Linked DNA regions of Homo sapiens. The protein of the gene in region 3 purifies or fractionates together with the protein of the main gene of each other region. This does not show direct contact. Each region holds a gene or a part of one and is shown on either strand. Other genes may lie near its edges.

Region 1 (3,500 bases), on a different chromosome or scaffold from region 3:
GAGTTTCTGACGCCGCGTGTCGGGAGGCGGCCACGCCGCGAAGATCCGAGTTTCTGACGCTGCGCGACGGGAGGCGGCCACACCAGGAAGATCCGACATCGCATAACCGGATGTAGCCACGCCGGGAAACCGGACGCAGCTGCGCGGGGAAGGTCTAAGTATTTTCCAAAGGAGGCAAAAGGCAAAGTCAGCACATCCAGGCCCAAAGCTTCCACACAGCAAAGGGAAGAATGAGCAGAGTACAGCCGCAGGGACAGCCCGCGGGTACGGGATGGGAGACTGTATCTTAGAACCGCCGCCTGACAAGGATTAATCACTGGAATATATGAGGAGCTCAGGCTCAATAGCAGACAATCTAATAATCCAATTAAAAATGGGTAAAAGACCTGAACAGACAGCTCTCAAAAGACAGCATGGAAATGACAAACAGGCGTCTGAAAAGGTGCCCACCACCACCGCTCCTCAGAGAAATGCACATAGAAACAAGTGAGACATCCTCTGACCCCAGTTAAAATGGCTGCGGAAACAAGTCCCGGCGCGGATGTGGAGACAAGGGAACCCTCACGCTGCTGGTGGGAATGTAAATGAGCACCGCTGGGAGAACAGTCTGGAGGTCCCTCCAAAACTAAAAATAGAGCCCCATACAGCCCGGCAATCCCACTTCTGGGCAAATACCCAAAAGAGAGGAATTCAGCTATGGGGGAGAGCTGCACGCGCACGCCGAATGCCCCACTGTTCCGACAGCCAAGGTGTGGAAGCAACCGGGGTGTCCACGGACAGATGAAGGGAGAAGGAAAACGTGGAGCGCACGCAGTGGAATATTATCCGGCCACAAAAGAAATGAGATCCAGTCATTGGATCAACATGGAGGGAAGTGGAGGTCGCTATGTTAAGTGAAATAAGTCAGGCACAGAAGGGCAAATTCCGCACATTCTCATTTGTGGGAACTAAAAATAAAAATAATTCAACTCATGGAGATAGAGCAGAAGGATGGCTCCCAGAGGCTCGGAAGAGGAATGGGGCCGGGGGAAGAGGTGGGGATGGTTAATGAGTACAAAAACAGAATGAGTAAGATTTAGTATTTGATAGCACAACAGGGTGACTATGGTCAACAATAATTTATCACACATTTAAACATAACGAAAAGTATCACTGAATTATTTGTAACACAAAGAAAGTGTAAGTGTTTGAAGTGACGGGGACCCCATTTCCCCAATGTGATTTACACACACTGCATGCCTGTATCACAGTATCACACATGCCTTATATACACCTATGTGTACCCACAAAAATTAAAAATACAAATTTTATTAAAAAAAAGAACAACGTCATTATATTCACCAACAACAAAACAAAACAAAAAAAAAAAAAAGAAAAAAAAAAGCAAATCGTTACATTCCAAGTGTGAGATGGACCAGCGGATTTTAATGCACTGAGCGTGGAAGGCTCTGTGGTGTGTGGCCTCAGGCCCTGTGCTGTGAGTGACCTTCAAGGGACGGCCTGTGTCGCTGTTGGCGTGGTATTGAAGAAGTCCCACGCCTATCTGAAAAGGCTACTAAAATACTCTTCTTTTGTCCAACTACACTTGAAGCCACAGGCGAGGCCAGATTATTTTCCACGTATTTCAGCCAGAGCCATACACATCATGACTGACTGTATGGAAGATGTGAAAGTCCAGTGTCTTCCATCAAGCTACACATTTAAGACATTTGCAAAAATCGTTCTTGCAGATGATTTTGTTTTGGAAAGTATTTTTCAAAAACACAAGCCATCTGTGTCAATATATACTGGGCTTACTATTGTTATTTTAAACAACTAACAAGTATTCTAGAATACTCTCAGTTTTGATTTCTGTTAGAGGAAATGTCAGCAGCTATCACCACAAAGACAGCCGCTCTCAGGGTTTGCCAAGAACTCAAGAGTGTGCCAGGCCGGAGCTGAGGCCCCTCCTGTGCCCCAGGGCCCTGTGGCCGGTCACACGGCTCAGCTACAGATGCCCGTGGCAGGCGCCGAAAGCAGGCATCGGAACGAAGGCCAAGCCGTCGGAGTCTCACCTAAAATTGCATCCTGGATGGCCCTCTCTGGATCGTCAAGGTGAACCAGCAACTCTCGGTACAGGTACTGGACACTGCTCTGATAGTAGGATTTTGCGTTGGCACCCTTGACACACTGCAGCCAGGTGACCAAGGTGGAGGCGGCTGCCATCCTCACATCGTTGGACACGTCATCTAGGCGTTTTAAGAGTTCTGGAAGGAGGGAGCGAGACAGGTGTGTGAGTCTAGAGCAGACATTTCACGTCTAAACGTCCACAAAGGCATTTAGTTCATACTCCCATGGGACACCTGCCCTGGGGTCCTAAGAAACCCACACCTCACGGGAGACTCCGTGCATCCCGAGCCACATGCAAGGTGCTCCTGGCGACCTGGGACCCCTGAACCCCAGCCAACAGAGTGGAGGCGGCCCAGGCCCTGCTGCGGCCCCTGTAATAACCTGTCCTGCAGGCGCAGAGCCTCCCTGTAGCTGTAGCTGTGTGCTCACCTGGTCCTCCACCTCCTCGCAGCTGTGTGCTCACCTGGCCCTCCACCTCCTGCTCCCAGATGCTCAGATCCCCGAGCTGGCCACCCTGCCCAGCTCTGACCCTGCCCTCCCACCAGAGCTGAGGACTCAGTGACAGACAACCCCCTACTGTGGTCAGTTTTCTGCTGCTGAAAACAGAAGGATGATCCTTCCCGATGGGTAGAAACTTATGAGGTTAATGGACATAATTTTTATCAAATTTATGCTTTTTTTACATCATCTTAAAAAAACTTTGGCACCCCCTTCTGTGCAGCATCCGGAAATTCGCAGATGACTGAGTCGCAAAACCACCCGGAGGCCCATCTTCCCGACGCTGGGAGGGGCAGCTGCCCATGCCTGGCATGAGGCCCATCTTCCCGACGCTGGGAGGGGCGGCTGCCCGCGCCTGGCACCAGGCCCATCTTCCCGCTGCAGACGCGAGGGTGGGCTGGGTCTCTGATGCTTTTGCAATGTGGAGGGCATGATCCACCCTCAGCAAGAGGATCCTATGTAACGAAAGGCATGAAAAACATCCAAAGTTCAGGCCATCCTACCAAGCCAGGCTTTGAGACAAGTGGGACCCAGTGGGTTAATTCCTGGCAGATGCCCAGGCACTTCCCTGAGGGTTCTGGGCCCTGAGGGTGCTGGGCCTTCCAGCCACCAAACACAGGCACCAAGGAGGAAGCCACGGAGCACATCCAGGCATTATGGTGCCAAACCCTGAAGCAGCCCTGCACGGCAGGTGCCCTCACTGCACAGCGGGTATGCTCACTGCACAGCGGGAGCCCTCGCTGCATGGGGGGTGCTTTTGCTGCATGGGGGGTATGCTCACTGCACGGCAGGTGCCCTCACTGCACAGGGGGTATGCTCACTGCACGGCGGGAGCCCTCGCTGCACAGTGGGTGCCCTCGCTGCACGTGTCTCAGGAGGAAGGACGGAGTCAG
Region 2 (3,500 bases), on a different chromosome or scaffold from region 3:
CTTTTCTGAGTCCTGTAGTACTTCTAGAGAACTCTTACCCTAAAGGTGGTCACGGGGACTCCCAAACTCGCAGTGGGTGTCAGAAGTGAGGATGGTCTTGGAGACTCATGAACTTTGCAACTAGAAATCACTGAACTGTACATTTTAAGTGTACGAGGGTGAGTTGTATGGTACGTGCATTGTATCTCAAAGTCATTAAGAAAAAGGTAAGGACCCTTTAACATAGCCACAATCCCATCATCACACCCCACAATATGTCTGTAGATTGACTCTAAAAATAGAAATGCAGCCGACAGCATATTACACACCAGGGTTATGGAGATTTCAGCCATTACCTGGGTCATTCAAAGGAGGATGATTTTTTTCTTGAGATGGGGTCTCAAACTTTCACTCGATACACAAACGGACATTCTTCCTACTCCAATTCCTGCTCTGAATTACACCTCCAACATTTTGGTTTGCTTTTTCAGACCACATCTTTCTGTATGCTCTTCCTGCAATCTCCCCTTCCCTGCCAGTCTGTCACAGCCCAACTTTAAGTGACTCTCAAGCACACCATGTGATGAATGAAACATCTTTTTATCTTGGCGGCTTGAACCCTAGAGCCCTCCCTCCTCCTGCTGTCACGGAGCTGCTGGAGGTGGGGTGCCGCCAGCAGACCTGAAGAGCCTTATCACCCCAAGATTTCCTTGTACCGTCTCACACATGAGAACTACTGTTCTGGATTCCCAAGTGTTCCTTCTTGGTGTGCTCACTTATTCTGCTGACGGATGACCCTGTGTAACACCCTCAGGAAAGGTGCATGACGGTAAACTTTTTGAGGCTTTTCATGTTGAACGTGTTTTTTTTTTCTTTCTGAGACAGAGTCTTGCTCTGTTGCCCAGACTGGAGCACAGTGGCGTAAGCTCAGCTCACTGCAACCTCCGCCTCGCGGGTACAAGTGATTCTCCTGCCTCAGCCTCCGGAGTAGCTGGGATTAGAGGCGTGTGCCACCTCGCCTGGCTGATTTTTTGTATTTTTAGTAGAGACAGGGTTTCCCCATGTTGGCCAGGCTGGTCTCGAACTCCAGACCTCAGGTGATCCGCCCACCTTGGCCTCCCAAAGTGTTGGGATATAGGCATGAGCCACCATGCCCTGGCTAATGTCTTTCTTTTGTCTTATCTGTGGTTGACAGCTTGGCATGGCAAAGAACTCTACGCTCAAATTCATTTTCTCTCAGAACTTTGAAAGTCTCTCTTCCACTGTCACATAATGTCTGGTGCTGGATATGAAACTGTTGATACCAGTTTCATTATTTTTGAGAGGGTTTCACTCTGTCACCCAGGCTAGAATGCAGTGGTGTGATCATAGCTCATTGCAGCCTCCAACTCTTGGGCTCAAGCGGTTCTCCTGCCTCAGCCTCCTGAGTAGCTGGGACTACACATGAGCACTGCCATGCCTGGCTAATTTTTAAACATTTTCCTGTCGACACAGGGTCTTACTATGTTGCCCAGGCTGGCCTCCAACTCCTGGCCTCAAGTGATCCTCCCACCTTGGCCTCCCAAAGTGCTGGGACTGCACCTGGCCCATTTCAATTTTATATTAATAGATACAACTCTTCTAATTAGTGGATACTAATTTTTAAAGTTCTTGTCTGTCCTCGGAATCATGTTTCTTTCGAGACCTCTAGTTTTGTTTTTGCAGCCATATTTAACAATGAGGGAACCAGAAGGCTGACCAGAGATGGAGGCTTCACTCTGAGTGTAGGATGAAGGTCTCAGTTCTGTCTGGGAGAAAGAAATGCCAGAATGAGCAGGGCCTCATTCTCAGGGGCAGACATCCACGTTAGCCACTCTGGGTCTCTTCAGACTGTTTCCTTTCTTTAAACAGACCCTCGATTGTCACCCAGGGATGGATGCTCAGCTGTGGGCCTGTCTGTGCAAGGATGGGGGAAGGGGAGGCTGACTGGCCTCTCTGCCACACTTCACTTCCCTTCCCCACCTTTCCAGGCCCAGGCCCCACTCTGACTCCTCAGGTGACCTCCTCCAAGTCAGGAGCCTCTCTGGGCTTCCACAGGGCTGTGGGTCCTTGCCTTAGCACAGGGTTGCCACTCATATTCCAGGCCTGCTCCGGCACCGCCCTCTATCAGGCATGGTTTACAAGTCCCGTCTACCTTCCAGAGAGGGACAGGACTCCCTCATCCTGACACATCCCGCTCCTTCCTGTTCCCCCACGGCATCATTTCTGAGCCTTTATAAATGAAAACTTCTCCACAGCCTCAGGCAGGAAAGAGGAGAAACACGTGCACATGCTCCGTCTTCTTTCTTGAATCAAAAACTGCCTTTAATTAGAAACACAACCTGAGTACATATCCTTACAAGACCATGTCCTGACAGAAACAAAATACAATCCTTATGGAATTAGCAAGCCTACAGCTTTAAAATCAGAGCAAAAGCAGCATATGCACAGACACGTGGCTACGGCCCCCATCCAGAGCCATTTCGAGAACAGGCAGCACCAACCTCTGACAGCCTTTGGTTTGAGAGCACGTGAGACTTCACACGTTTATAAATCACAATCTTAAACAGTTCCTCTTTCACTAATAACAAAACTGTTTAAAAGGAGCTGAAAATAAACTTATTACGCTGGAAGAACACCCATTTTGAGTTTTACCATAATCAGAACTTCCAATATCTTTTCCAAGAAACATTTAAGAGGTTTGCACATGCACTCGTGTACACATGCAAGAAAGATCCACTTCAGCACAATCATTAACGCTGGAAGGAAAACAGTTGTTACCTTATAAACGATTAAATGGAGCTCTTCATAAGTGTCATCTGTATTTACAAAAATTTTGGGGAATCTGCATTTTGCATCTGGATCATTGAGGTTCAAGGGTCCGGTAAGAAATCTTAAAAGCAAGAACAGACATGACTTGATTCAACGAGGTGAAGGAGAATCAGGAATCTAGAAACAGAACACACTCCCACTTCATACACACCAGTTGCTTTTGATGCCAGGTGCTATTTGGCAAACACCATATCAGAATATGCTGGCTGGGCGTGGTGGCTCATGCCTGTAATCCCAGCACTTTGGGAGGCTGAGCTGGGTGGATCACCTGAAGTCAGGAGTTCAAGGGCAGCCTGGCCAACATGGCAAAACCTCGTCTCTACTAAAACTACAAAAATTAGCTGGTCGTGGTGGTGGGCACCTGCAATCCCAGCTACTCAAGAGGCTGAGGCAGGGGAATTGCTTGAACCTAGGAGATGGAGGCTGCAGTGAGCTGAGATCGTGCCACTGTACTCCACACTCCAGCCTGAGCGACAGAGAGACACTCCATCTCAAAAAAAAAAAAAAAAAAAAAAAAAAAAAAAAAGGGTATGCTGAAGTAAGTTTTAACTCATTGGAAACAACAAACTTTCCTTTGTTGATTACTGTCAATCAGATGGCACAAAGATATTTCAATGTCCATATTATCTTTACCAAAAAGATAATAGGCCACGCATGGTGGATCACACCTG
Region 3 (3,500 bases):
AGAACCGGGCCAAATCCTAGGGCTCAGACAGATCGGCCTGTGGTTTGCGTGGCTTTTGCTTGCTTCGAACTTCCATTGTGGAGATCTGCACCATGAGGAACAGGACAGAGCCATCCTCTGTGGGCTGCAGGACCACCTCTCCCCTGCAGGGTCCTACCCAGGGCTCAAGCCCAGCACCTGCCCCTCCAGAGACCCTATCATTTCAGGAAATTCTAAGAGAAACACTTGGCCGGGCGCAGTGGCTCACGCCTGTATTCCCAGAGCTTTGGGAGGCTGAGGCAGGAGGATCACTTGAGCCCAGGAGTTTCAGACCAGCCTGAGCCACACAGGGAGACCCCGTCTCTTAAAAACAATAAAAATCAGCTGGGTTTGGTGGTGGGCACCTGTAGACTCAGCTACTCGGGAGGCTGAGGCGGGAGGATTGCTTGAGCCCAGGAGGTCGAGGCTGCAGTGAGCTGCAACTGTGTCACTGCACTCCAGCCTGGGTGAGAGCGAGACCCTGTCTCAAAAAAAAAAGACAAAAAAAGACTCTGTTTTATTGAGGCAACCACAATGCCACACTGACACTTAAAAAAATACCACCTCCTCGCCACCACTGGGAATCCGGCCGGCGCCCAAAATTCCCGCATTTCCCCACCATCAATTTTTTGTTTTTTTGAAGTCTCCCGATGTTGCCCAGGCTCGTCTCAAACTCCTGGGCTCAAGTGATCCTCCTGCTTCAGCCTCCCAAAGCTCTGGGATTACAGCATGAGCCACCGTGCCCGGCCCCTTTTACAAACTTCTAGAGCTAGTTCGGTCAGATCAGACCCTTGGGTCACGCCCTGCCCTGAGCAAGAGCCCCTCCTACGGTCCCTTCGTCACAGCCGCACGGGCACGGCTGCGAGGCCGGCTTTCGCCTCCATGGTCTGGCGGGCATCGGCTGCCTGTGAGGCCTTCTTACCTCCTCATCAGACCGGCCGCCCCATGTGTCCCCGTGGCCACAAGATGGGCTCTACCCTTGTCTGCTCACGCCTCAGTCACTCAGCTCCACACCCACCATCTCTGGAAGGTTCTAGAACATGGCAGGCACGCGCCCCTCAGGGTCTTGGTGCTCCTGCACCAGACGTTCTGCTCCCCACACCCCGTCTTTGCTGAAATGACCCCTCAGGGTCATCTTTCCGGCCCTCCCGGCACTCCCCGGCACACCCCATGACCCTGCCTGGCCCTGCCCTCCTCCCCGGCGCTTCCTGGCTCTGAGGGGCCATGGGCTGAGCTTGTTCCTTCTGCTGCGTGAGTTTATGGGGCAAGGCTTCTCCCGCCCTGGTCACTGCTGTCGCCCGGCAGGCACAGGGCACAGGAGGCATCTCCCTAGCAGGTTTGCTAACTGAATGACACGTGACGGGTGGATAGGCAGTGCCAATGAGACCCGCCGTGGTCACTACTCAGAGGAGCCCGGGGCATCTGGTGCGACCAGTGTGGCTTCCACTCGGGTGGGCTGAGGCTACAGCGGGGCCTGGGCAGGGCTGAGTGTCCCCCGTTGAACACAGGGCCCCCGCGGCAGCGGCTGGACCTGCGCAAGCCCCATTGTCTCAACATGTCCAAAAACCCAGGGCTCCCAGAAGGGAAAGACCACAGAGTGGAAAGCAGAATGGCTCAGGACCTGCCCAGAGCCTCGCCAACACCGGACAACAGCAGAGAAAAGCCTCAGGACCTGCCCAGAGCCTCGCCAATGCTGGACAACAGCAGAGAAAAGCCTCAGGACCTGCCCAGACCTGCCCAGAGCCTCGCCAACACCGGACAACAGCAGAGAAAAGCCTCAGGACCTGCCCAGAGCCTCGCCAACACCGGACAACAGCACAGAAAAGCCTCAGAGCAACTGCACACAACCGCATATCCGGGTCAACTCATCGAGCCGCACACCTAAGAAAGGGTCGTTTTGCTATCTGCAGAAAACAAAGGCCAGATTACCTACCCGTCGAGCATGAGCCAGAACGAGGTGACAGACACACAAGGCGTCTCCTGAACCCGTCCCAGGAAGCGTCTGGAGGTGACTTTGTGAACACAGAACCAGCCCCATTCGGCCCTGTCCTGGTCATGAACCCGGCTCTGGGCATTAATGTTCAAGGCACAGGTCTAGGACTGGACCAGGCTGTGGAGGGGCTGGGGACTGATGTGCAGAGGCTGGGGGCGTTGGGGACAGTCCGCCCTGGGGGTGGCGTGGGGGATGATGTGCAGAGGCTGGGGGCATGGAGGACGGCCCGCCCTGGGGGTGGCATGGGGGCTGGTAGAGAGGTTGGGGGTGTTGGGGGCAGCCTTCCTTTGTGGGGGCATGGGGGCTGATGTGTGGAGGCTGGGGTGCCAGGGTCGCCCTCCTGGGGGTGGTGTGGGGGCTGCATGACTGACTGCCACTCCAGCAAAGCAGCCAGTGCGGGATGAGGGTCCCCACCCGCACCACCAAGGGCAGTTGGGCTCACGTTCCCGCCCCATCTCAAGCAGAAGCTGAGAGAATCCCCGGCGGCTGTCCTGCTCTTTCTGCTGGGAAAACAGACTGACTGGCTGGGCAGCTGCCTCAGCCCGGGCCCCTGGACTGGAAGCCACAGGAGCACATGCAGCCACAGCGATCACCCACACGGAACGCGAGGGAGGGTGAGCCTCTGTTCGTGTGGTCCCTGGGGCCTGGGGATTGCTTGTTACTGCGGCAGAATGTAAGGGAGCTGACTGTCACAGTCCACTTAGAAAAATGCAGGAATGGCAGGCAGAGACCTAGGAAGGACGCACACTTGATCATGCCTCAGTCAACAGAGATGGCACCACACAGCTGCCATTCGCCCAGAGGACGCCCCTGGGCTGGGCATCAGGACACACAAGTGAGCCCAGCCGACCGCACCCCAGCCCTTGGGAGCAGACACCGTTTTGCCCAGAAGCACTGGAATCATGACAGTCAGGCGGCAAAGGTGAGGGGGGAAGATGGCAAGGGCAACACCCAGGCTAACACGAGCCTGAAATCAACTAAGCGGGAGTAAAGTCCTGCGCCCACTGCTCAGGCCCTGGTGACGGTGACCAAGGGCGCCTCCCACTGCCCAGGCCCCGGTGAAGGTAACTGAGGGCTCCTCCCACCCAGGTCCCGGTAACAGTGACCAATGGCTCCCACTATCCAGGCCCCGGTGACGGTGACCGAGGGCTCCCCCTGCCCAGGCCCCGGTGACGGTGACCGAGGGCTCCCCCTGCCCAGGCCCCGGTGACGGTGACCGAGGGCTCCCCCTGCCCAGGCCTTGCCCCTCCTTCCTTTGGCCTCAAAAGGCCAAATCATCTGGTCACACAGTCAACGCCCCTTCCTCCTAGGGAAGGAAAACTGCCCATCCTAGGACTCCCGAGGTCCAGGCTAAGCCTCCACAGCCCCAGGGGCTCCTCCTGCCTCCACTCCTTCCACACGACTCTATGCGGAGCTGCCGCTGACTGGCCGCTTAACCACAGGCTGCAGGGGACCAGCAATGGGGCAGTCCCCTTGCTCATCCCACAGC
Region 4 (3,500 bases), on a different chromosome or scaffold from region 3:
ACTGGGGAGGTGGAAGTTGCGGTGAGACGAGATTGTGCCACTGCATCCCAGCCTGGGTGACTGAGTGAGAATCTGTCTCAAAAACAATTAAAAAAAAAAAAGTTCTAGTCTCCAGAGCAGCAGCAGCGGCACCAGCAGCAGCAGCATCATAAACTCATAAATCAAAGAAACATGGGTAAGTGTGATTATGTTAAAAACATACACACAGCCAAAATTACCAGAAGCAATGTCAAAAGAAATGACAAAGGCGAACGCAGCCTACAAAGGGCGCATGTGCAGAGGGGCCTACAAACAGGCTCATTCTCGGCAGCACTGCCTCCAACAGCGTAGAGAGGAAAAAAATGCTCTCCAACAGAAAGCTGATTTAATACATTATGTACATCCAAACAATGGAACTCTATGCAGCTTCAAATGAGAATAAACAAGTATTGCCATACGTGGTAGAAAATGACTCAGAGATATTATTAAGAGAATAACGCAACATACCAAAGTATATATATCATATGCTACTACTTGTACAAAAGTGGGGAGGGATTATATACTATGAGCTGTAGCTGCATATAATATCCCCCCACCCCAAATTAAAAGAGAAATAGTGATTGCTTCTGGGATAAGGGGCAGTCTGAGAACTGGGGTAAAAAGTAGCTTCAGGCCAGGCACAGTGGCTCACGCCTGTAATTCCAGCACTTTCAGAGGCCGAGGCAGGTGGATCATCTGAGGTCAGGACATCGAGATCAGTCTGGGCAACATGGTAAAATCCCGTCTCTACTAAAAATACAAAAATTAGGCGGGCGTGGTGGTGGATGCCTGTAATCCCAGCTACTTGAGAGGCTGAGGCAAGAGAACTGCTTGAACCCAGAAGGCGGAGGTTGCAGTGAGTCGAGACTGTGCCACTGCACTCCAGCCTGGGCAACAGAGTGAGACTCTGCCTCAAAAAAAAAAAAAAAAAAAAAAAGGGCCGGGCGCAGGTGGAAGCTCAGGAGGCTGGACAACACGGTGAAACCCCGTCTCTACTAATACACAAAAAAATTAGCTGGGCGTGGTGGTGTGTGCCTGTAATCCTAGTTACTTGGGAGGCTGAGGCAGGAGAACTGCTTGAACCTGGGAGGTGAAGGTTGCAGTGAGCTGAGATTACACCAGTGCACTCCAGCCTGGGTGACAGTGTGAGACTCCATCTCAAAAAAAAAAAGATTTTCTTCTTTGTCTGCAGAGTGGAAGATTTATGAAGACTCAAAAAGCACAATCTAAAAGAACAAAAGTGATATATTTACCTGCTTTAGGGTGAAGGACTCACACTTCTGATTTCAAAGCTTATGGCAAAGCTACTGTAATCAAGACAGTGTAGTACTGGCATAAGGACGGACATACAGACATATAGATCAGTGAAACAGAACTAAAAGACCAAAAACAGACCCTTACATTTGTGGACAATTGATTTTTGACAAGGGTACCAAAACAATTCAATGAGGAAAATACAGTCTTTTCAACAAATAGTGCTGGAACAAATAGATATCCATGTGTAAAAAATGAAATTTGGACACCCACCTTGCATTACATACAGAATTAACTTAAAATGGGTTGAAGACCTAAACATAAGATGTAGAAAAATTATAAGCTGGGCGCGGTGGGTCACACCTGTAATCCCAGCACTTTGGGAGGCTGAGGCGGGAGGATTGCCTGAGCTCAGGAGTGTGAGACCAGCCTGGGCAACATAGTGAGACCTGTCTCTTTAAAAAATAAAAAATTATAGAACTCTTAGAAGGAAACATCAGAGTGAATCTTTGTGATCCTGGGGTAGGCAATGGCTTCTCAGAGATGATACTGAAAGCACAAGTAACAAGAGAAAAACTGGATAAAAGAGACTTCACCAAAATTTAAAACTTTAGTGCATCGAACGACACCAATCTCACCAAGAAAGTGAAAAGAACTCACAGAACAAAAGAAAATACTTGGAAATCATGTATCTGAGGAGAGACTTGCATTTAGAATCTATTAAGAATTCTTACAATTCTGTAATAAAAATGACAGAACCCAATTTTAAAAATGGGCAAGTGATCTGAACAGACATTTGTTTAGCTGAAGACAAAGGCCAACAGGCACAAGAAAAGATGATCAACATCCTTAGTCATTATGGAAATGCAAATAAAAACTACAATGAGACACCACTTCATACTCAGTAGGATGACTAAATTCAAAGAATAACAGGCCAGGCATGGTGGCTCACGCCTGTAATCGCAGCACTTTGGGAGGCTGAGATAGGTGGATCACCTGAGGTCAGGAGTTCAAGACCAGCCTGACCAACATGGCGAAACCCCATCTCCACTAAAAATACAAAAACTAGCCAGGCGTGGTGGTGCATGCTTGTAATCCCATCTACTCAGGAAGCTGAGGCGGGAGAATTGCTTGAGCCTGGGAGGCCGAGGTTGCAGTGTGCCAAGATCGAGATCGCACCACTGTACTCCAGGCTGGGTGACAAAGTGACAATCCATCTCAAAAAAAAAAAAAAAAAAAAAGACAGAATAATAAGTCTGTCCATGTGGATATACAACTGGAACCCTCCCACACTGCTGCTGGGAGTACAAACGGTACAGCTTCAGTGCAAAAGAGTTTGGCAGCTCCTCCAAATGTTAAATGCAGAGTTACCACAACTCAGCAATTCTACTCCTAGGGGTGTGTGTGTGTGTATGTATGTGTGTATGTATGTATGTATGTATGTATGTATGTATGTATGTATGTATTTTTGAGACAGAGTTTCACTCTTGTTGCCCAGGCTGGAGTGCAATGGCGTGATCTCAGCTCACTGTAACCTCCACCTCCCAGGTTCAAGCAATTCTCCCGCCTCAGCCTCCCAAGTAGCTGGGATTACAGGCATGCGCCATCATGCCTGGCTAATTTTGTATTTTTAGTAGAGACGGGATTTCTCCATGTTGGTCAGGCTGGTCTTGAACTCCCAACCTCAAGTGATCCATCCACCTCAGCCTCCCAAAGTGCTAGGATCACAGGCGTGAGCCACCACGCCCAGTCTCTACTCCTAGGTATATCTAAGAGAAATGAAACCATACATCCACATAAAAACTTTTCACAATATTCACAGTATCGTGACAGCCAAAAAGTGGAAACAACCCATCAGGTGTCCATCAGCTGATGAATGATAATATCATTACAATGGAATACTATTCAGCAATAAGAAGGAATGAAGGCCTCGCGCAGGCTTCAACCTGGGTGAACCCTCAAAACATTACACTAAGTGAAGATGCCAGACACAAAGGACCATTTATGTATTATAGAATTTCATTTCTAAAAAATCTCCAGAATAAGTTCAAAACCAGCCTGGACAACATAATAAGACGCTGTCTCTCCAAAAAATAAAAATAGAAAAAAAAAGAAATTAAAAAAAAATTAGCCAGGTGTGGCGGCACATGCCTGTAGTTCCAGCTACTCAAAAGGCTGAGGCTGAAAATTCGTTCAAGCCTAGGAGGTCAAGGCTGCAGTGAGGTATT
Region 5 (3,500 bases), about 140 Mb from region 3:
TTTGCTTACAGGTTTAACACAGAATGTGCCAGAACAATCCTGAACGAGAACAAAGTTGAAAGTCTCATACCTCCCGATTTCAAAACTTAGTACAAAGCTACAGTAATCAAAACAGTGTGGTACTGGCAGAAAGACAGACATATAGACAAATAGAATGGAATAGAAAGCCCAGAAATAAACCCTTGCATATATGGGCAAATGATTTTCAACAAGGATGCCAAGAGAACGTTGGGTTTTGGCTATTCAGCATCCCGAGACAGGTCTCACGATATTGTGCAGGCTGGAGTGCAGTGGCGCAATCACAGCTCACTGCAGCCTCGATCTCCCAGGCTCAAGTGATTCTCCCACTTAAGCCTCCCAAGTAATTGAGACCACAGGCATGCACCACCACGCCCGGCTAAGTTTTTAATTATTTGCAGAGACAAAGTTTCCTTATGTTGCCCAGGCTAGTCTTGAACTCCTGCCCTCAAACGATCCTCCCACTTTGGCCTCTCCCAAAGATTACAGGCATGAGCTACTATGCCAGCCTTTCTTTGGTTTAAAGATGGATTTTTCTTTTTTTTTTTTTTTTTGAGACAGACTCTCGCCCTGTCACCCAGGCTGAAGTGCAGTTGCACAATCTCAGCTCACTGCAACCTCCAGCTCCCAGGTTCAAGTGATTCTTGTGCCTCAGCCTCCCAATTACAGGTGTGAGCCACTGTGACTGGCCGGATTTTTCTATTTCTGCAAAAAACACTGTTGGAATTTTGACAGGAATTGCACCAAATCTGTTGATTGTTTTGGGTAGTATTGACATTTTAACAAATAGTAAGTCTTCCAATCAAAACTTAAAAAAAAACCCACTAAATTTTATCCAGCTTTCTTCTAAAACAGAAAAAGCAATCAATTCAAGTGAAAACTCCAAATGAATTTACATGCTATTAGCATCCAAAAATTTAAAGAGTTCCATTTATTTATTTATTTATTTATTTATTTATTTATTTATTTATTGAGATGGAGTCTCACTGTAGCCCAGGCTGGAGTGCAGTGGTTTGTTCTCAGCTCACTGCAACCTCCACCTCCCGGGTTCAAGCTATTCTCCTGTCTCAGCCTCCTGAGTAGCTGGGATTACAGGCGTGCTGCACCACCATGTCTGGCTAATTTTTTGTATATTTAGTAGAGACAGGGTTTCACCATGCTGGCCAGGCTAGTCTCAAACTCCTGACCTCAAATGATCTGCCCACCTCAGCCTCCCAAAGTGCTGGGATTACAGGTGTGAGCCACCGTGCCCAGCCAAGACTTCCATTTAAGATCCAGTACTAAAACTACTTTTTAAAATGGATGATACTAACCTTTTAGCAGTTACAAAAAACATCATTTTAGTAGAGTCCTCAACAAGAGAGGCCTAATATTACCACACAGAAATGCCCAAAACACTGATTCCTCCTTACCGGCCAAGGCTAACTGAAGCCCACTAATGTCCACAGACTGGCCCATGTTTCCAACGTCCATCAGTGCAATCTGGCGAGGCGTCTTTTTGAAGAGTTCCCGTGGGGGTGCCAGCATCAGCTGGGAAAGAAAAAACTTTTCTGGTGGAGTTATAGGAGGTAAAAATCCTGCAAACAAAAATGTATAACGATTTCTCCAATGGTTACTTTTAAAAATCAACTTGAATCTGGTAAAATCAGTACTTGCTACTTGCCACTTCAAGCCACATAGTTTTAAGAACTAAATTATGATTAAGTTTCAGTCAACCAAATATATACATTTACAAACTATGTAATATGTCATTTGAAATTCTATGATCTGTGGCCCTACAAATGAAACTTAAGGTTTTTGTACTTGTTAACTGTAAGAGTTAAAGAAAGAGGAAAGAAACACAAAACGCAGCCTGGCAGTCAAAGACAGGTTTTCTTTAGTTAAAACATCGGCCAGGAGTGCTTCTCAGGTTCTAACTAAAGAAAATCTGTCTTTGACTGCCAAGCTGCGTTTTGTGGCTTTTTTTTTTTTTTTGAGATGAAGTCTCACTCTTGTCTCCCAGGCTGCAGTGTGATGGCATGATCTTGGCTCACTGCAACCTCCACCTCCCGGGTTCAAGAGATTCTCCTGCCTCAGCCTCCCAAGTAGCTGGGATTACAGGCACCTGCCACCATGCCCAGCTAATGTTTGTATTTTTAGTCGAGTCGGGGTTTCACCATGTTGGCCAGGCTGGTCTTGAACTCCTGACCTCAGGTGATCCACTCGCCTCAGCCTCCCAAAGTGCTGGGATTACAGGCATGAGTCACCGTGCCCCGCCTGGTGTTTCTTTCCTCTTTAACTCTCACATTAGTAACTTCATTTTCTTTTCTTTTTTTTTTTGAGATGGAATCTCGCTCTGTCGCCCAGGCTGGAGTGCAGTGGTGCAATCTCGGCTCACTGCAAGCTCTGCCTCCTGGGTTCACGCCATTCTCCTGCCTCTGGCTCCCGAGTAGCTGGGACTACAGGCGCCCGCCACCACGCCCAGGTAATTTTTTGTACTTTTTAGTAAAGACAGGGTTTCACCGTGTTAGCCAGGATGGTCTTGATCTCCTGACCTCGAGATCCACCCACCTCGGCCTCCCAAAGTGCTGGGATTACAGGCGTGAGCCACCACGCCTGGCCCAATAACTGCATTTTCTAAAGTGCCTCAATTCCTGCAAAGGCTAAAGCTTATATATGCAAACAAAAACAGACAACACTATAGTGCTCGGAAATGCTTTTCTTTCTTCTCTGTTTCCACTGTGTAGAAGTTGAATAAATAGAAGAGCAACCAGCAGCTATCCAAATACACTACCTGATTCAACACACAATGCAGCTACAAATTCCCACAAGGCTGAATGTTCCTTCCCTTTTGTCCCATGTTTAATTGCTCATGAAGCCTCATCTCTCCCACTGCAGAAATGTCACCAGGCTGCATTCCCTCAGATGTAGTCCCCACGCCTCTCTTGCTGGGACTACTCCTGCCCCCTCTACTGACTTCCCCAGCTCCCAGTTTTGACCCCTGCTCACCCACCACCCATAGTCCATACTTCCTCTTACCATTTAGTTATATCTCTAGAGTACAAATCTGATCACATTACTTAACCTGTGTACACAGAATTAAACCCAGATTTCTACACCATTACAAGACCCTTCAAAATCTGGTCCCACCACACCTTCCTAATCTCACTTCTTGACCTTCTCTCCCATCCATGTACCCTACACCCCGGTTGCACAAAATCCCTCAACTTCTACACTATTTTTTTTTTTTTTGAGGCAGTCTCACTCTGTTGCTCAGGCTGGAGTGCAGTGGCGCGATCTCAGCTCACTACAGCCTCCGCCTCCCAGGTTCAAGCAATTCTCCTGCCTCAGACTCCTGAGTAGCTGGGATTACAGGAGTGCACCATCATGCCGGGCTAATTTTTGTATTTTTTGGTAGAGATGGGGTTTCGTCATGTTGGCCAGGCTGGCTTCCAACTCCTGGCCTCAAGTGATCTGCCTGCCTTGGCCTCCCAAAGTGCTGG
Region 6 (3,500 bases), on a different chromosome or scaffold from region 3:
TTCATTCTTCTTTACTAATCCATCTAGACAATGATGCAGAACAGCAAGGAGAATTTGGGAACCCAGACCCCCACCTTCAGCAGCTTAGCTTTCATGGTGGATGTGATGGTTGTGGGGTTAATAAACTGGAAGGAAGGGGCGGCGTTGTTTGGGTACTGTGCAGGGAACTTCACCAGCATCTTGACACGATGGTTGCTGCAGTGCACAGACACTGTGCAGCTCCTGTCTGCCGCATCCATCTGCAAGAGACAAATCCACAATTGCTGTAGAAACAAACCATAAAGCGTCTTTCGATGCAAGCACATTTAACTGAACGCTCCATGTTCCTGGTAATTGAATGAAGGGAAAGAGTCTACAAAGACAAATGTGTGTGGAAGACAATTCATTTTCAAAAAGATTCTTAAATTTTCATACCAGATTCTTAAAATTTTCAAACCAATGGAATAAGCTCAAAGTTGCTGAGACCAGCTCGGTCGGGGTGACCCTAAACCAGCAGTGCCAGAAGAATTAAAGACACACACACAGAAATATAGAGGTGTGGAGTGGGAAATCAGGGGTCTCACAGCCTTCAGAGCTGAGAGCCTTGAACAAAGATTTACCCATGTATTTATCCACAGCAAGCCAGTGATAAGCATTGTTTCTATAGATTATAGATTAACTAAAAGTATTCCTTATGGGAAACAAAGGGATGGGCTGAAATAAAGGGATGGGCTGTGGCTAGCTATCTGCAGCAGGAGTATGTCTTTAAGGCACAGATTGCTTATGCTATTGTTTGTGGTTTAAGAACGTGTTTAAGCGGTTTTCTGCCCTGGGTGGGCCAGGTGTTCCTTGCCCTCATTCCGGTAAACCCACAGCCTTCCAGCGTGGGCATCACCACCATCATGAACATGTCACAGTGCTGCAGAGACTTTATGGCCAGTTTTGGGGCCAGTTTATGGCTAGATTTTGGGGGGGGGGGGGGCCTGTTCCCAACATGTCCCCCTTCTTTGATTTGCAAAGTGATAAAAGCAAAGGCAGCTTTGTCACGGTGAGCTACTTCTTGCAGGAGTCAAGATCCACATCTGCAGACTACACAAAGACAAACAACACAGAGGGTCAGTTTATGGCCAGATTTCAGGGGGCCTGTTCCCAACACAAAGTATTCTTTTTTTTTTTTTTTGAGACAGGGTCTCACTTTGTCACCCAGGCTGGAGTGCAGTGTGGCACAATCTCAGCTCACTGCAACCTCCACCTTCTGGGTTCAAGTGATTCTCCCACCTCAACCTCCCAAATACTGGGACTACAGGCCACCATGCCCAGCAAATCTTTGTTTTGTTGTTGTTGTTGTTGTTTTGCTTTTTGTGTTTTGGTAGAGATGGGGTTTCGCCATGTTGGCCAGGCTGGTCTCAAACTCCTGACCTCCAGTGATCCACCCACCTTGGCCTCCTAAAGTGCTGGGATTACAGGCATGAGCCACCACGAAGTTCAAAGTATTCTGACTTTAACAAAGCTTCCTCCCTCCCAAAGCTGTGGGGTAGACTGAAACTTGTTATATTTACTTTGAGATGGGAAAATAAAGCAGGAAGAAGTTAAATACCAGACTCAACTTAAAAAGTGCTCCTGGGAAAATCCATAGGGGAAGAAAGTAGATTCGGGATTGCCACGGGCTGAGGGAAGGGGAAATAGGGAGTGACTGCTCATGGGTATGGGGTTTCTTCTGGGAATGATGAATATGTTCTGGAATCAGACAATGGTAATGGCTGTACAACTTTGTGAATATACCCACAACAGCCAGATTATATACTTTAAAAAGCGGAATTTTGGCTGGGCACAGTGGCTCACGCCTGTAATCCCAGCACTTTGGGAGGCCAAGGTGGGCAGATCAACTGACATCAGGAGTTCGAGGCCAACCTGGCCAACATGGCAAAAACCCCATCTCTACTAAAAATACGAAAAAAAATTAGCTGAGCGTGGTGGCGTGCGCCCATAATCCCAGCTATCTGGGAAGCTGAGGCAGGAGAATCGCGTGAACCCGAGAGGCAGAGCCTGCAGTGAGTCACGGTAGCACCACTGCACTCCAGTCTGAGCGGACAGAGCAAGGCTCCATCTCAATAAAAAAAAAAAGATGAACTTTATACTGTGTGAATTATATCTCAATAATTTTTTTAAAGTACTCTCGAAGAAAGGAATCAAGATCTTAAACTAGATCACTAGGTATCCACACTGTCCTCAAATGGGACAAAGGGAGTATAAACTGACTTGATATAGATCACTAATTAAGCAAAGAATCCTTTATATCTTTTCATTTCTTGTGTTGCCAACTAGAGACAGCAGCTGGAGTAAAGAGAAAAGAACCACATGTGGCAAATCTGGAGACCTGGATTCACATGTTGTTTCTTCCACCAAATAGCTGCTGACCTTGGACATTTCTTCTCTTGATGTCTCCGTTTCCTCAGCTGTAAAGTGAGGCTAAAACCACTTACAGCAGACTATTTTTTTTTTTTTTTTCGAGACGGAGTCTTGCTCTGTCGCCAGGCTGGAGTGTAGTGGTGTGATCTCGGCCTCACTGCAAGCTCTGCCTCCTGGGTTCAAGCGATTCTCCTGCCTCAGCCTCGTGAATAGCCGGGACTACAGGCGCACGCCACCATGACCAGCTAATTTTTGTATTTTTAGTATAGACGGGGTTTTACCATGTTGGCCAAGAAGGTGTCGATCTCTTCACCTTGTGATCCGTCTACCTTGGCCTCCCAAAGTGCTGGAATTACAGGCGTGAGCTACCGCACCTGGCCAGCAGACTTGTTTTAAAAGCCACATGAGATAGTTATGTAACAGCACATATTTGGGTAAAGGAAAAACTAATCAAGCTTTAAAACTCCTTTCTGGAGAGATACTCAATTTTCTGAAGCAAAGACTTTCAATACTTGCCCCCAAAAAAGTAACTGTTCCACAGGCTAAGCAAACAAAGAAGTTTTGGTTGCCTTCTTACTGTGAATCTAAATTACCAGGAAATGGCCAGCCTGTGAGAGAAGATGGCACAGCCCAGCACAGCACAGCACAGCACAGCACAGAGTGCCCTGGACGGGCTGGAGGTTTGGCTTCCCAAGTCAACTCTGTCCCCAACTTCAGCAGCAACCTCTGCCAAATCACTAAGCCTCCAGGGCCTAAGTATCTTCCTCTACAGTAAAATGAGATGCTGGAGCATCTAAGGAGGAGCTAAGGCACACGAGCATCAGGTTCTCCTTTGGCTCATCTTAGGAGAAAAGAATAGGGGTAGAAAGAAAGTCTGCATCTCTTTATTTACTTATTTATTTATTTATTTATTTAATTATTTTATTTATTTTTTTTGAGACAGAGTCTTGCTCTGTCACCCAGGCTGGAGGACAGTGGTGCGATCTTGGCTCACTGCAACCTCTGCTTCTCAAGTTCAAGTGATTCCTGTGCCTCAGCCTCTCGAGTAGTTGGAATTACAGGCTAATTTTTTTTTTTTTTTTTAAGTGGAGACAGGGTTTCACCATGTTGGC
Region 7 (3,500 bases), on a different chromosome or scaffold from region 3:
TTCTTGTATTTTTAGTGGAGACGGGGTTTCACCGTGTTAGCCAGGATGGTCTTGATCTCCTGACCTCATGATCCACCCACCCCGGCCTCCCAAAGTGTTGGGATTACAGGCGTGAGCCACCGCACCTGGCACCTCATTTTCTTTATGGAATATGAGGTGCACTGGGCACCGAGAGGGTGATTATCGAAGTCTGAGGAGCTTGGGGAACGTTTCTGTTAGGGGGTGAATTGTGTCCCCACAAAGATATGTGGAAGTCCTATCCCTGGTCCTTGTGACATGGCGTCCTTTGGAAACAGGGTCTTTGCAGATGTGGGTAAGCTCAGGTGAGGTCATTAGAGCAGGCCCTAGTTACATATGCCTGATGTCCTTTTAGGAAGAGGAGAAGAGACGCAGACATACAGAAGGGAAGGCCGGATGACACCAGAGGCAGGGCTGGAGCAGCGCATCTGCCAGCCAGGGAGCACCAAGGCTTGCTGGGAACAGCAGGAGCAGGACAGCAGCTCGGGGCAGACACTCCCCTCAGCCTTCAGAGCCAGCGGGCCCTGCTGACACCTGATTTTGGAGTTCTCGCCTCCAGAGCTGCCAGAATACCTTCCTGTTGTTTAAAGCCACCCAGTTTGTGGAAATGATTAGAGTTCCAAATGGCCCCTATGGAGCGTGCAGGAGGGCACTGACAGAGGAAGATGCCTCAGGATCCACAAACAGCACTGTGGGGACATTTCTGGTGATGACTGTGAACTGATAGTGGCTTAATGCTGATAAGCATGAAGGATTCCTAAACATGTCCCCAAGCCACCAAAATAGCCAGCGTGAAAGAACTGCCCACATACTAGGGCTTTTATAACCCTGGGATTTGGCCTCTGTGAAAACTGATGACGGATGTCGTTTTCTTTTTTTTCTTTTCTGAGACAGAGTTTTGCTTTTGTTGCCCAGGCTGGAGCGCAATGGCGTGATCGCCGCTCACTGCAACCCCTGCCTCCTGGGTTCAAGCGATTCTCCTGCCTCAGCCTCCCGAGTAGCTGGGATTACAAGCATGAGCCACCATGCCCGGCTAATTTTGTATTTTTAGTAGAGATGGGGTTTCTCCATGTTGATCAGGCTGGTCTCGAACCCCTAACCTCAAGTGATCCACCCACCTCGGCCTCCCAAAGTGCTGGGATTACAGGCGTGAGCCACTGCGCCTGGCCTCATAGATGTCGTTTTCTTCATGAATAAGCTAGAGTAGAGTTCGTTTGAAAATACACACACGCACCACACGCACACACACACACGTGTGCACACACACGCATACACCCCCCCACATACAAGCATACAGATGCACACACACACCCATATGCACACACCCACGTGTGCGCACACACACACAGATGCAGACATACATATGCGCATACACACACCAATACACATACACGCACACACAGATGCATGTATACACACACACACCCATAGGCACACACACACATGTGCACACACACAAGGACAACAGCAACACAAACAACATGAGCCAGAAGCTACCACAGTCAGGCTCCTTGCTTCTGAGCACTCACTTGCTCCAGGTAAATATCCACGCTGCCTGTTGAGGTTGTGCTGATGTAAGCAACTGCCAAGAATGGATGGACAGGGTGCCAGCTGATAAATGAGGGTGACCCTGCTGCATCCGGGGCTTCTATCTGGTGGTCATAATAGAGGGCCATGACGGAACTCAGGCCTCCTCAGCGCTGAAACCTGCAGGGAAAAAAAAATGACCAAGTCCAATCAGTTTTAAATAAAACAAACAATATGACTGTACATGGAATGACGAAAAGGAAGCATCCCAAAGCCACCATCGGAAGACCATCGGCAACTTGAAAATGCCTTGCGGACTGAGCAGGCAACCTGATGCGAGGAGATCTCCAACAGGGAGACATGCAGAAGAGAAGCAGTTAGACCCGGAATCACCCAGGCTGTGACAGAAACGAATACAACTCATGGCCATCAAAGGAGGAAAGAAAGAAAAGGCCTGCAGCCTAACTACACACGCAATCCTCAGTAACTTTCATTCCAGTCACAATAAGGACAAGTTCTATTTCTGTAGTTCCCTTTAACTTTTTAGACCAAGTCTTGCTCTGTCACCCAGGCTGGAGTGCAGTGGTGTGATCACGGCTCACTGCAGCCTCAAACTCCTGGGCTCAAGTGATCCTCCCACCTCAGCCTCTCAAGTAGCTGGGACTACAGACATGCACTACCATGCCCAGCTAATTTTTAAGTAATTTGTGTAGACACAAGGTTTTACTATGTTGCCCAGGCTGGTCTTGAACCCCTGGCTCAGGTAATCCTCCTGCCTTGGCCTCCCAAAGTGCTGGGATTACAGCCGTGGGCCACCACTGCCTTTTAAACAACATTTTCAAACAAAATAAATGCAAACTGCTCCAGAAAAGAGTACTGGTACAGAAAAAAAACCAGTACTGAATTTCCAATAAAGCATAAAATCAAAGACTGTCTTTTACCTCTGACTCACAGGTGGTAGAAGACAGAAGTCTTCCTCTATTAGAGAGTCAAGAATGCACAGCCGCAGCAGCTGTGAGAAGTTGAGCTTGATCACTTACGTGAACTTAATCTCTCTCTTTCATTCTTCCTTTCAGATCTGGAAAAGATATACACATCGTCCCTTTTCAGGCGGGTTAGGGTGATAAATAAAGTGACGGTCTGGTTACTGCTCACTTTTTTACACCTCAGTCAATTTGGGGAAGTTAACTGGCAGAGAAGAACATACTTGTAGCCGGGTTTGCCACCATTTAAAATTATACAGGCTCATGCCTGTAATCCTAGCAATTTGGGAGGCCGAGGTGGGCAGATTGCCTGAGCTTAGGAGTTCGAGACCAGCCTGGGCAAAATGGCGAACGCCACCCGCCTCTACTAAAAATACAAAAGGTTATCCAGGTGTGGTGGCAGGCACCTGTAATTCCAGCTACTCCGGAGCCTAAGACAGGAGAATCACTTGAACCTGGGAGGCAGAGGTTGCGGTAAGCTGAGATCGCGCCACTGTACTCCAGCCTGGCAACAGAATAGGACTCCGCCTCAAAAAAAAAAAAAAAAAAAAGAAACCCGAACAACAAACAAACACTCCAGATCAAAACCTGGGCAATTTAAAATAGCAAAAGAAACCTTTAAATTAAAAAATATATATTGTTTAGAGACAGGGCCCCCAGGCTGGAGAGCAGTGGTGTGATCATGGCTCACTGTAGCCTTGAACTCCTGGGCTCAAGTGATCCTCCTGCCTCAGTCTCCCAAGTAGCTGGGATTACCTCTTAAAATGAGTTTTGGCCAGGCATGGTGGCTCATGCCTGTAATCCCAGCACTTTGGGAGGCCGAGGCGGGTGGATCACAAGGTCAGAAGATCGAGACCATCCTGGACAACATGATGAAACCTCTTCTCTACTAAAAAATACAAAAATTAGCTGGGTGTGGTGGTGCCTGCCTGTAATCCCAGCTACTCAGGAGGCTGAGACATGAGAATCGCT

The links.
Region 1: the proteins of D2HGDH (region 3) and DNAAF5 purify together in Homo sapiens (affinity purification with mass spectrometry; one large-scale study listed by BioGRID and IntAct). This does not show direct contact.
Region 2: the proteins of D2HGDH (region 3) and CCZ1 purify together in Homo sapiens (affinity purification with mass spectrometry, with the first as the bait; one large-scale study listed by BioGRID). This does not show direct contact.
Region 4: the proteins of D2HGDH (region 3) and VPS33A purify together in Homo sapiens (affinity purification with mass spectrometry; one large-scale study listed by BioGRID and IntAct). This does not show direct contact.
Region 5: the proteins of D2HGDH (region 3) and CNOT11 purify together in Homo sapiens (affinity purification with mass spectrometry; one large-scale study listed by BioGRID and IntAct). This does not show direct contact.
Region 6: the proteins of D2HGDH (region 3) and WDR59 purify together in Homo sapiens (affinity purification with mass spectrometry; one large-scale study listed by BioGRID and IntAct). This does not show direct contact.
Region 7: the proteins of D2HGDH (region 3) and IFT140 purify together in Homo sapiens (affinity purification with mass spectrometry; one large-scale study listed by BioGRID and IntAct). This does not show direct contact.

Annotation. Positions count from the first base shown.
Region 1 is NC_000007.14:778,699-782,198, reverse strand, and holds part of DNAAF5 (dynein axonemal assembly factor 5), read right to left. Parts: intron 2,247-3,500; coding exon 2,055-2,246; intron 1-2,054. UniProt on the Homo sapiens protein: Cytoplasmic protein involved in the delivery of the dynein machinery to the motile cilium.
Region 2 is NC_000007.14:5,912,233-5,915,732, reverse strand, and holds part of CCZ1 (vacuolar fusion protein CCZ1 homolog), read right to left. Parts: intron 2,891-3,500; coding exon 2,779-2,890; intron 1-2,778. UniProt on the Homo sapiens protein: Acts in concert with MON1A, as a guanine exchange factor (GEF) for RAB7, promotes the exchange of GDP to GTP, converting it from an inactive GDP-bound form into an active GTP-bound form.
Region 3 is NC_000002.12:241,751,630-241,755,129, reverse strand, and holds part of D2HGDH (D-2-hydroxyglutarate dehydrogenase, mitochondrial isoform 1 precursor), read right to left. Parts: intron 1,052-3,500; coding exon of another isoform or gene 1,013-1,051; exon of another isoform or gene 941-1,012; intron 500-940; coding exon of another isoform or gene 467-499; exon of another isoform or gene 384-466; intron 86-383; exon of another isoform or gene 1-85.
Region 4 is NC_000012.12:122,256,495-122,259,994, forward strand, and holds part of VPS33A (vacuolar protein sorting-associated protein 33A), read right to left. Parts: intron 1-3,500.
Region 5 is NC_000002.12:101,255,886-101,259,385, reverse strand, and holds part of CNOT11 (CCR4-NOT transcription complex subunit 11), read right to left. Parts: intron 1,596-3,500; coding exon 1,431-1,595; intron 572-1,430; exon of another isoform or gene 1-571. UniProt on the Homo sapiens protein: Component of the CCR4-NOT complex which is one of the major cellular mRNA deadenylases and is linked to various cellular processes including bulk mRNA degradation, miRNA-mediated repression, translational repression during translational initiation and general transcription regulation.
Region 6 is NC_000016.10:74,912,124-74,915,623, forward strand, and holds part of WDR59 (GATOR2 complex protein WDR59), read right to left. Parts: intron 240-3,500; coding exon 75-239; coding exon of another isoform or gene 24-74; exon of another isoform or gene 1-23. UniProt on the Homo sapiens protein: As a component of the GATOR2 complex, functions as an activator of the amino acid-sensing branch of the mTORC1 signaling pathway. The GATOR2 complex indirectly activates mTORC1 through the inhibition of the GATOR1 subcomplex.
Region 7 is NC_000016.10:1,605,573-1,609,072, forward strand, and holds part of IFT140 (intraflagellar transport protein 140 homolog), read right to left. Parts: intron 2,625-3,500; exon of another isoform or gene 2,487-2,624; intron 1,726-2,486; 5' UTR 1,695-1,725; coding exon 1,548-1,694; intron 1-1,547. UniProt on the Homo sapiens protein: Component of the IFT complex A (IFT-A), a complex required for retrograde ciliary transport and entry into cilia of G protein-coupled receptors (GPCRs).